Homo sapiens: one gene and its partner. The protein of the gene in region 1 purifies or fractionates together with the protein of each later gene. This does not show direct contact. Each region holds a gene or a part of one and is shown in the gene's direction. Other genes may lie near its edges. The genes, in order: FADS2 and PANK3.

Region 1 (4,611 bases):
CCATACTCTCTGGAGGTCTTGCTTCATCCTCTTATTTTGTACAGAAGGCTTTTGTTTGGGATGTCTGCTCACACTCAAAGACAGAGAGGCCTTACTGTCTTTATGTCTGCAGTCTGTGGAGTGAATGAAGGATGCTCAGGGCTGACACCAGCATGAAATGTGATGGGAGAGGTTGGGGACTGTGTGAATGTGAGGAAAGGGAGCCCATCTGCCCCCCCAAGTACAACCCCACCAGTTGGGCAGAGTGATCCCCCCACCACCCCTGCATTGCTGTGAAATTTAGATTGGGCAGGGCCCGTTTGACCATCTCTCTCAATCTCAGGCTCTCCATTTTCAAGTGAGATGTAATAATATGCGTCCTGTTTACCTCTCAGCCTGTGATGAGAATCTAATGATTAGGGTGTGCTAGCACACAGGCACCTGTAAATCCCATTGAAATCTGAGGGCCCTATAACTCCTCTAGTGATTCCCAAGCCTCGTGCACCCCACCCTCTCTGTTCATCCTTACTTCCCACGTGTCCCGTTAGCCCTCCGGATGCAGTCAGGCCCATTTCCCCCAGGACGCCCGGCACTAAGCCGCCCCATCCAGCTGGGGTCTGAGGGGCCTGTCTCTTGCCCCACGCCTAAAAGACCTAACCCTCCTCCTATCCCTTCGATACGGCAGTCTTTATTTGCTGGAGTCTGCACAACATCACTGCCCAATGATGTGTCTGCTTCCACGATTCCCAAAGAGACTGAGCTTACTGAGACCAGGGCAAGGACCGCGCCAGTTCCTCATCGCCCCCTTCCTCTGCCTTCCCCTCCCTTCCCCCTCACCGCAGCCATGGCGCCCAGACCAAGAAAGCAGAGCAGAGGTTCCGCAATTCTTTTCTAAGATTGTCTGACTAGAGGGTTCAAAGCCCTCTAATCCAAGGCCGGCTTGTGTCTCTAGGGAGGTTGCAGAAAGGCGCCAGAATGTGGATGGCGCGGACAATGTGGGATACTGGAGTCTCGACTGCCGCGCGCCAAGGAAGGGCGTCACCTAGCCAAGCCGGCCCTGGAGTTGAGTGCCCCGCAGCCCGCCGGTCCACCCGCCCGGCCGCTTGCTGGCACCCTGGTGGCCGCGCCGGCTTTGTGTCGGCATCAGGTGCAAACCCCCAGAGCGCCGGGCGTGCGCGCACGCGCCCCGGAGCGCGCGGAGCCCATTCGTTGCCCCCACCGGGATCTCCTCTAGGATCTCCTCCGGCGCCCGGGGCCGGAGAGTGGGGGAGGGAGGAGGTCGGACACGTAGCCTGCCTCGCAGCAGGGCTCGACTCCACGCGGGAGGGCGGGGGAGCCGGGGACCCGCCGCTCCAGCCCGCTGGCCTTCGAAAGATCCTCCTGGGCCAATGGCAGGCGGGGCGACGCGACCGGATTGGTGCAGGCGCTCTGCTGATCGCTGTGGAAACTCGGGCGGCGGGGAACGCGGGAGGATGTGGAACCCGAGGCGGGGGGAGCCGGAGGGGCGGGCAGAGGAGGTGTCGAGGCCCTGAGCTCCCGGGGAGTTTTTACTGGAGGCAAAAGTCCATAGCGGGAGGGCTGAGGGAGGGGCGGAGGAAGGGGACCGCTTGGGGGCACTGGGAAGCCAGGGATCCTCCGCCAGGAAGGCAGGGACACTCCCGAGCGCAGGCGAGAAGGCTGGGGGAGGGGGCGCGGTGGGAGGAGTAGGAGAAGACAAAAGCCGAAAGCGAAGAGGGCCCGGGCTGCACACACCGGCTGGGAGGCAGCCGTCTGTGCAGCGAGCAGCCGGCGCGGGGAGGCCGCAGTGCACGGGGCGTCACAGTCGGCAGGCAGCATGGGGAAGGGAGGGAACCAGGGCGAGGGGGCCGCCGAGCGCGAGGTGTCGGTGCCCACCTTCAGCTGGGAGGAGATTCAGAAGCATAACCTGCGCACCGACAGGTGGCTGGTCATTGACCGCAAGGTTTACAACATCACCAAATGGTCCATCCAGCACCCGGGGGGCCAGCGGGTCATCGGGCACTACGCTGGAGAAGATGCAACGGTAAGGGTCTGGGGGCGCCCCAGCCACCCTTCTCTGCTGCAGGCGGAGTCAGGATCCCTGGCTCCCCGTGGGCCAAACAGACCTCCGGCGCTGAATGGAGCTTGGGACGTCCTGTAGGGAAGGAAAGTGCATCTATTGCACTCGTACCCCCTCCCCAATCCTCCTCCTCCTCTGGGCCGACTGGGGTGGAGACCGGATCTGGGACCCGGGGAGGCGGCGCTGCGGTGAAAGTCCCAGCGGTGGAGAACAGGGCAAGCATCTACCGCGCGCGCCGGGACCCACGCGTCCTCCCCTTCCTCGGGGTTTGTCTGGAGGCAGGGACTCCCCAAGAGGGGCGCTCGGGCCAGACGGCTTTGGCGCCCCCAGCGGGGAAGATGGCCGCCCCTGCGCGCCGCTGAAAGGAGCGGGAGCGCAGGCAGCCAGGTGTGGGACTCCGCGCTTGTCCCGCACTCTCCATCCAGACTGGGTGGCGAGAAGGAAAGCTCGTCCCCGGCCGGAGATCGCTCCTGCTGGGACTCTTGTCTAAGAAGTTCCTCAATGGCCACCTGGGAAAAACCGCCCAGCAGCTCGGGTTCCCACGCTCCAGGGATTATCTAGACTCACCCCAAGCTCGAGCCGGCCTTCTTGGGGACCGGCGTCCGGGATTGGTGGAAGGAGAACGGCCTGGGGTTTGCAAAGCCCAGGTCGAGTGAGGCCTTGAGCCGGTGGATTTAGCAGCACTAGACTGGCTTGGCAACAGGTCCGTCTGCACTCGAGGTTACTCTCGGGCGTTCAACTCAATGGCTCTCTCTTTTTAAATCCTGCCAAGAACACCCTTCCCTCATCTTGCACTCCTAAAGGTTGTGGGCCTCTCTGGAGCCATTGCTGCCCACCTTACCCCCACCAAATGCGTGGCTCAGTGATTACCCCGCACCAGCTACCCGCACCGGGGACCCCAGTCTGAAATCCTGGCATTTATTTAAGGATGCAGCTGGTATCCCATGGATTCGAATGGGCCAGAAGGAAAAGAACAGAGGCAAGGAGGGAAGAAAGGGCGGCTTTTGGTGGTGGTAGTGAATTGGATGCAGAGAAAAAAGGTCTGATGGGATACAGAAATTGGGGAAAGTGAATAGGAGAGAGGCAGAAAGGAGGGATGAACTTGACGTAGATCATTCCACCTGGAGGTCTAGGATGCCCAACTGTTGGTGGGCTTTTGCTCTCTAAGCTGTGTAGGCCCGACCCTTAACTTCCCCACCTCTTGCATCTCATGGAGACAGGCCTAGGGGAAGGCCAGACCAGGCCACCATAACCCAAGCTGGACAATGGACAGGTGGTGTGGGCCAGCAGGGCCAGGGCTTATCTAAGATTGGGAAGGTCAGCGATACTGAAATTCCCTACAGCTTTCAGTCCCATCCTGTTTTACTTGCTTGTGGACATTGCTTAAGCCCAGTGGGTTTGTGATGCTATTTAGAACTTAGGTGGGTATGTTTCACATACCTTCAGTGCTATCTCACCTGGACCTTTACGCGGCCCAGTGAGGAGGTTGGGTTAATGTAACTCCTAAGTAAAGGACCTTCTGGATCCTGGCTGGGATCTTTCCACTATATGTTGCTGGACTTGGGCTGGTCTGTTTCTGATTTCATAGGTAAATTGTAGAAGGTTCCTGTCCTGTCCAGGCCCTCACCAAAAAGTTTCCAGAAGGAAAAGTCAAATACGATGAATTTGGTCTGATTATTCCACATTGTTAAACATATTTTCTTATGTGAACGCTTAGTCTGGCAATTGCCTTGACCTTTCTGGTTTAATTACCATATCAGATTGATTTATTTCTTCCTTGTTCTGGATGTTCTCAGTGCTTACCTGACCTTAACACTGAGTTCCCTCCAAAAATCAGTGCTCACATCTCTCCTAACAGAGGACTAGAATGACCTACTCTTCCCTGACCTTTTCTCTGTCTCATAAAAATGTAATAGTCTCGTCATTTCTGGTCCTGCTCCAGCGCTTTCTGTATAACTTTCATGGACTATAAATCTGGTATCTTGGATGTTGGTTGCTTTGTTACTTTCATAAGCTAGGGTGGGAGCCAACCGGGGCTGCAAACAGATCTAGAATTGAAGAAAGATGTCATTACTGGGCTCATCCACTAAGTGTTGTCACTTGACTGAGCCCCATCTCCTCATCTATAAGGTACACCTGTACCTGTTTCAATGAGACTGATTTGTGGCAAAGCACCCAGCAACTGTAACCACTAGATGAATGCAATGGGGTGTTATCAGGCAAACGGGAATAAGAACAAGTATTATGAAACAGCTAGAATGGAAAGTATGCAAAGAGGAATTTGAAGAAAAAATTTAAATCTATGCTAGCTTTATTTGGTGTAGCAACACGTAAAAGCAATCCCTGTCCCCAGAGCTTCCTGTCTTCTAAAATAAGACTTTTGGGGCATGAAATACACGAACTGGGGATACAGATTTGAATGATGGTGATGATGGAGTGAGCAGCTGGGTTCTCTTTGTTTTGTTTTGTTTTTTTAAACTGTCCAGGACCAGGTTGGAAAAAGGCCTTGAGCAGCGTGGGGTGGGTGGGGCATGTGGAAAGGGGACCTAAAGAGA
Region 2 (3,811 bases), on another chromosome or scaffold:
AGTGGCACAATGATGGCTTACTGCAGCCTCTTCCTCCTGGGCTCATCAATCCTCCCACCTCAGCCTCCCAAGTAGCTGGGACCACAGGTATGCACCACTGTGCCCAGAAAATTTATTTTTATTAATATTTTTTGTGGAGACAGGATCACTCTTTGTTGCCCAGGCTAGTCTGGAACTCCTGGCCTCAAGCAATCCTTTATAGGTGTGAGCCACCATGCCCAGCCTTAAGTAGTAGAATATTGGTTCCTTCGCTTCAGTTTCAGTTGTGGGGAAGAGAATTACAATAACCTGTTAGGCACCCCCAGATTTTTTTGTATTCATTTACTACATGCAGTTAAGTTCTGATCTGAGCAATTATCAGTCCACATAATGTTTTGGATTAACTTAACTTGAATCATTTTGTGATCAAAGTCAAATGGCTGTATCATTACAAATTAGTAACAGAGATTCAAATTATTCTGCTCTTAAAAGCTTCCATGTCTTGGCCGGGTGCGGTGGCTCATGCCTGTAATCCCAGCACTTTGGGAGGCCAAGGCGGACGGATCACGAGGTCAGGAGATCAAGACCATCCTGGCTAACAACGGTGAAACCCCGTCTCTACTAAAAATACAAAAAAAAATTAGCCGGGCGAGGTGGCGGGCGCCTGTAATCCCAGCGACTCGGGAGGCTGAGGCAGGAGAATGGTGTGAACCCCAGGGGGCGGAGCCTGCAGTGAGTCGAGATGGCGCCACTGCACTCCAGCCACTCCAGCCTGGGTGATAGCGAGACTGTCTAAAAAAAAAAAAAAAAAAAAGCTTCCATGTCTCATTGTCACTGCTCACACAATACAAATCAGAATGGTGTGCCCTTGTGCAATTCCACATGGCATGCAGTGAGAGTGTCAGGCACAGCCACAGGAAGTTAGTTTGTTTTATTAAGTAAAGGGGAGAGGGTGCAGAATTGCTGTTACAGTCCTGGAAGCTTTAGTGTCTAAAGGCCACACTTTTAGAATACGTATTTCAGTGTGAGCCTATAGTCCCAGCTATTCAAGAGGCTGAGATGGGAGGACCATGTGAGCCCAGGAATTCAAGGCCAGCCTGGGCAAAATAGTGAGACCATGTCTCTAAAAATAATAATAATAAATAAAAATACATATTTCAAAGGTGTGTAGACATCAAGAATACAGATTCAGAAAATTTTTTATAATAGCTAACAACGCAGAAATTGGTAGGTTTCCAAATATTATTAAACAAATAGATTGTGCATAGTTGTGTGTTCTCAAGTGGTTAATATTATATGCTAACTTAAAAGCTGTACTACATAACAGTTATTTTTAAATTACACAGGGTTACTTTGGAGCAGTTGGTGCACTTCTTGGGCTGCCAAATTTCAGCTAAAGCATCAGGTCTCTCTCTCTGCTAATAAATGTCATCCAAGAGGAACTAAAACCAGAGGCATTATTACTGCATTGTTTGTCACTGGGAACCAAAGGATAAAAGAGTAGCATAAGCTGCTGAATGTTGCCATATTAAAGGAGAGAACTTGGTAACGTGAAGTATTTCTCATTGAAATGCTTTCCCTTTTGTATATAGCCAGTGTTAAATCCTTAAATGCAATACAGCCTCTGATTATTGAGCTTCCTCTTAAAAAGATTTTTTTATTTTATGTAGCCAACATTGCAGTACTGTATGCTCAAACACAAATCTTAAAGTATCGGAACTGTTTAGCTTATGAAAATAATCGACTCTGAATATTTGTTACAAGTCTGTTTTATGTGTTTTGATTACTAGTGAGCAGAAAATAACATACCCTGTATTCAAAATTACTGAAATGGCAATCAAAGATGATCATTTTTATGTGATTTTAGAAATGTTAAGGCAATACTACTAATTATTGTAGGTTTTTTTAACGTATCACCCAAAGCATGTATGTGATCTTTCCCCATTAGTATCTTTTTCTCAAATGCCATAATTAACTGAAATACTATTATTAAATTTTCATGAGAATTCTAAAATGAATCCTGGGAAATGCACGTTTGGTGATGTTGCACTTTCTGTATTTTACAGGAATTAGTCAATACATGTTGAAATGTTTAACATTTTAAGATTGGAGGCTTAATTACTGGGAGTCTGTCTAATGAAGTCCTGGGACTATTGTAATGGAATATGATTTGAGTTCACTGTGCTCTTTTTGTTTGTTTGTTTTGGTCATATATACATTCAGAACTTTTATTTTAAAACAACCACAATAACATTAATAATAGAAAATTCATCTGTAAATATTCACAGTCTAGTCACTGAAAAATGGGAAAACCTCTACCATGCCTTATTATTACCCTTTGCTGTTTGAGGAGCCAGAAATAGAGGTGCAGTTAGAGGACGGTCACTTTTTCCAACAAAACCCACTCCATAGCCATGTGGATTTTTATCCAAAGGCTCAACAACCAGAGGGAATGGTGAGACCTGATAACTAAAATACTGTTATTGGCAAGGGTTTGAAATGTGTAAGAACCTAGGAGGGAAAGGAAGATTGAGCAACATAGGAAAAGGGGAAGAGAGGCTGAGTGTCACCAAGGTCCAAACTCCATTTATAAAAATACTGCAAAACCAGGAGTTGATGGTAGAAATGCATATGATCCATGGCAGGAGTAAATCTCTCCACCTCCTCTAACTCTCTGAAAACTCTAGAGTTGGAGCAAGTCTTCCATTTGCTTCTTATCCCCTTAAAAGAATGCCTTCCACTTCCCAACAGCCCCCATCAAGGGACCCCAAGAGGCCACCATGCTCTTATCTCGCACTTTCTTTCCTATTCCCCTTGCCTGAATCTGGAGTGGGGTTGAGCCCTCTGCCTTCAACCTTAAGATTTAGGAAGTTCTTTCCCCAACTGTCTAACTTGGAAAGGTAGATGAGTCTGAATTTTGAAGTAACGAATGCAAATTCCACTCAGCAGAGGCAATGTTATTTATGTACATAGGGATAGTGGAATGAGTTTTAATAGATTCTGTCCAAAAGGGGTTTGTTCCTCTTATTTCCTCTATGTAGGAAGTTGTGTCTTAGGCAACTTTATCAGTATCAATGGAAAAATGATAGGCACTACAATGAAATGGCAGGATGCCAATATGAGATATTTCAGGAATAATAAGAAATACAGTTTGTTTGTATAAAATAAACTATCTCAAGAAAGTTTTCAACGACAGTGATAGTGTTCATTTGTAAGAGAGAGTTCTAGAACTTCGATGTCCAGTGCAGTAGCCACTACCCATATGTAGCTGTTGAGCATTTGAAATATGGTTAGTCCAAATTGAGATGTGCTCTAAAGGACAATAAAAGGTTAAATATCTCCTAATTTTTTGTATTGATTACATGTTGAAATGTTAACATTGGAAATATTGGGTTAAAGAAAAATACACAATTAAAATGAATCTTGGCCAGGCGCAGTGGCTCACGCCTCTAATCCCAGCACTTTGAGAGGCCAGGGTGGGCAGGTCACCTGAGGTCAGGAGTTCGAGACCAGCCTGGCCAGTGTGGCAAAACCCTGCCTACTAAAAATACAAAAATTAGCCAGGCATGGTGGTGCGCACCTGTAGTCCCAGCTACTTGGGAGGCTGAGGCAGGAGAATTGCTTGAACCCAGGAGGAGGAGGCTGCAGTGAGCTGAGATTGTGCCACTGCACTCCAGCCTGGGCGACAGAGTGAGACTCTGTCTCAAAAAAAAGAATCATCTGTTTCCAATTATTTTTAAATGTGCTTACTAGAAAAGATAAAATCACACATGGTTTACATTTTATTTCTATTAAGACAGCACCGTTAAGAACATAGAGCTTTGAGGAATTG

What was found.
Region 2: the proteins of FADS2 (region 1) and PANK3 purify together in Homo sapiens (affinity purification with mass spectrometry; one large-scale study listed by BioGRID and IntAct). This does not show direct contact.

Annotation. Positions count from the first base shown.
Region 1 is NC_000011.10:61,826,578-61,831,188, forward strand, and holds the start of FADS2 (acyl-CoA 6-desaturase), read left to right. Parts: upstream 1-1,722; 5' UTR 1,723-1,813; coding exon 1,814-2,020; intron 2,021-4,611. UniProt on the Homo sapiens protein: Involved in the biosynthesis of highly unsaturated fatty acids (HUFA) from the essential polyunsaturated fatty acids (PUFA) linoleic acid (LA) (18:2n-6) and alpha-linolenic acid (ALA) (18:3n-3) precursors, acting as a fatty acyl-coenzyme A (CoA) desaturase that introduces a cis double bond at carbon 6 of the fatty acyl chain.
Region 2 is NC_000005.10:168,555,136-168,558,946, reverse strand, and holds part of PANK3 (pantothenate kinase 3), read left to right. Parts: intron 1-1,325; coding exon 1,326-1,376; 3' UTR 1,377-3,811. UniProt on the Homo sapiens protein: Catalyzes the phosphorylation of pantothenate to generate 4'-phosphopantothenate in the first and rate-determining step of coenzyme A (CoA) synthesis.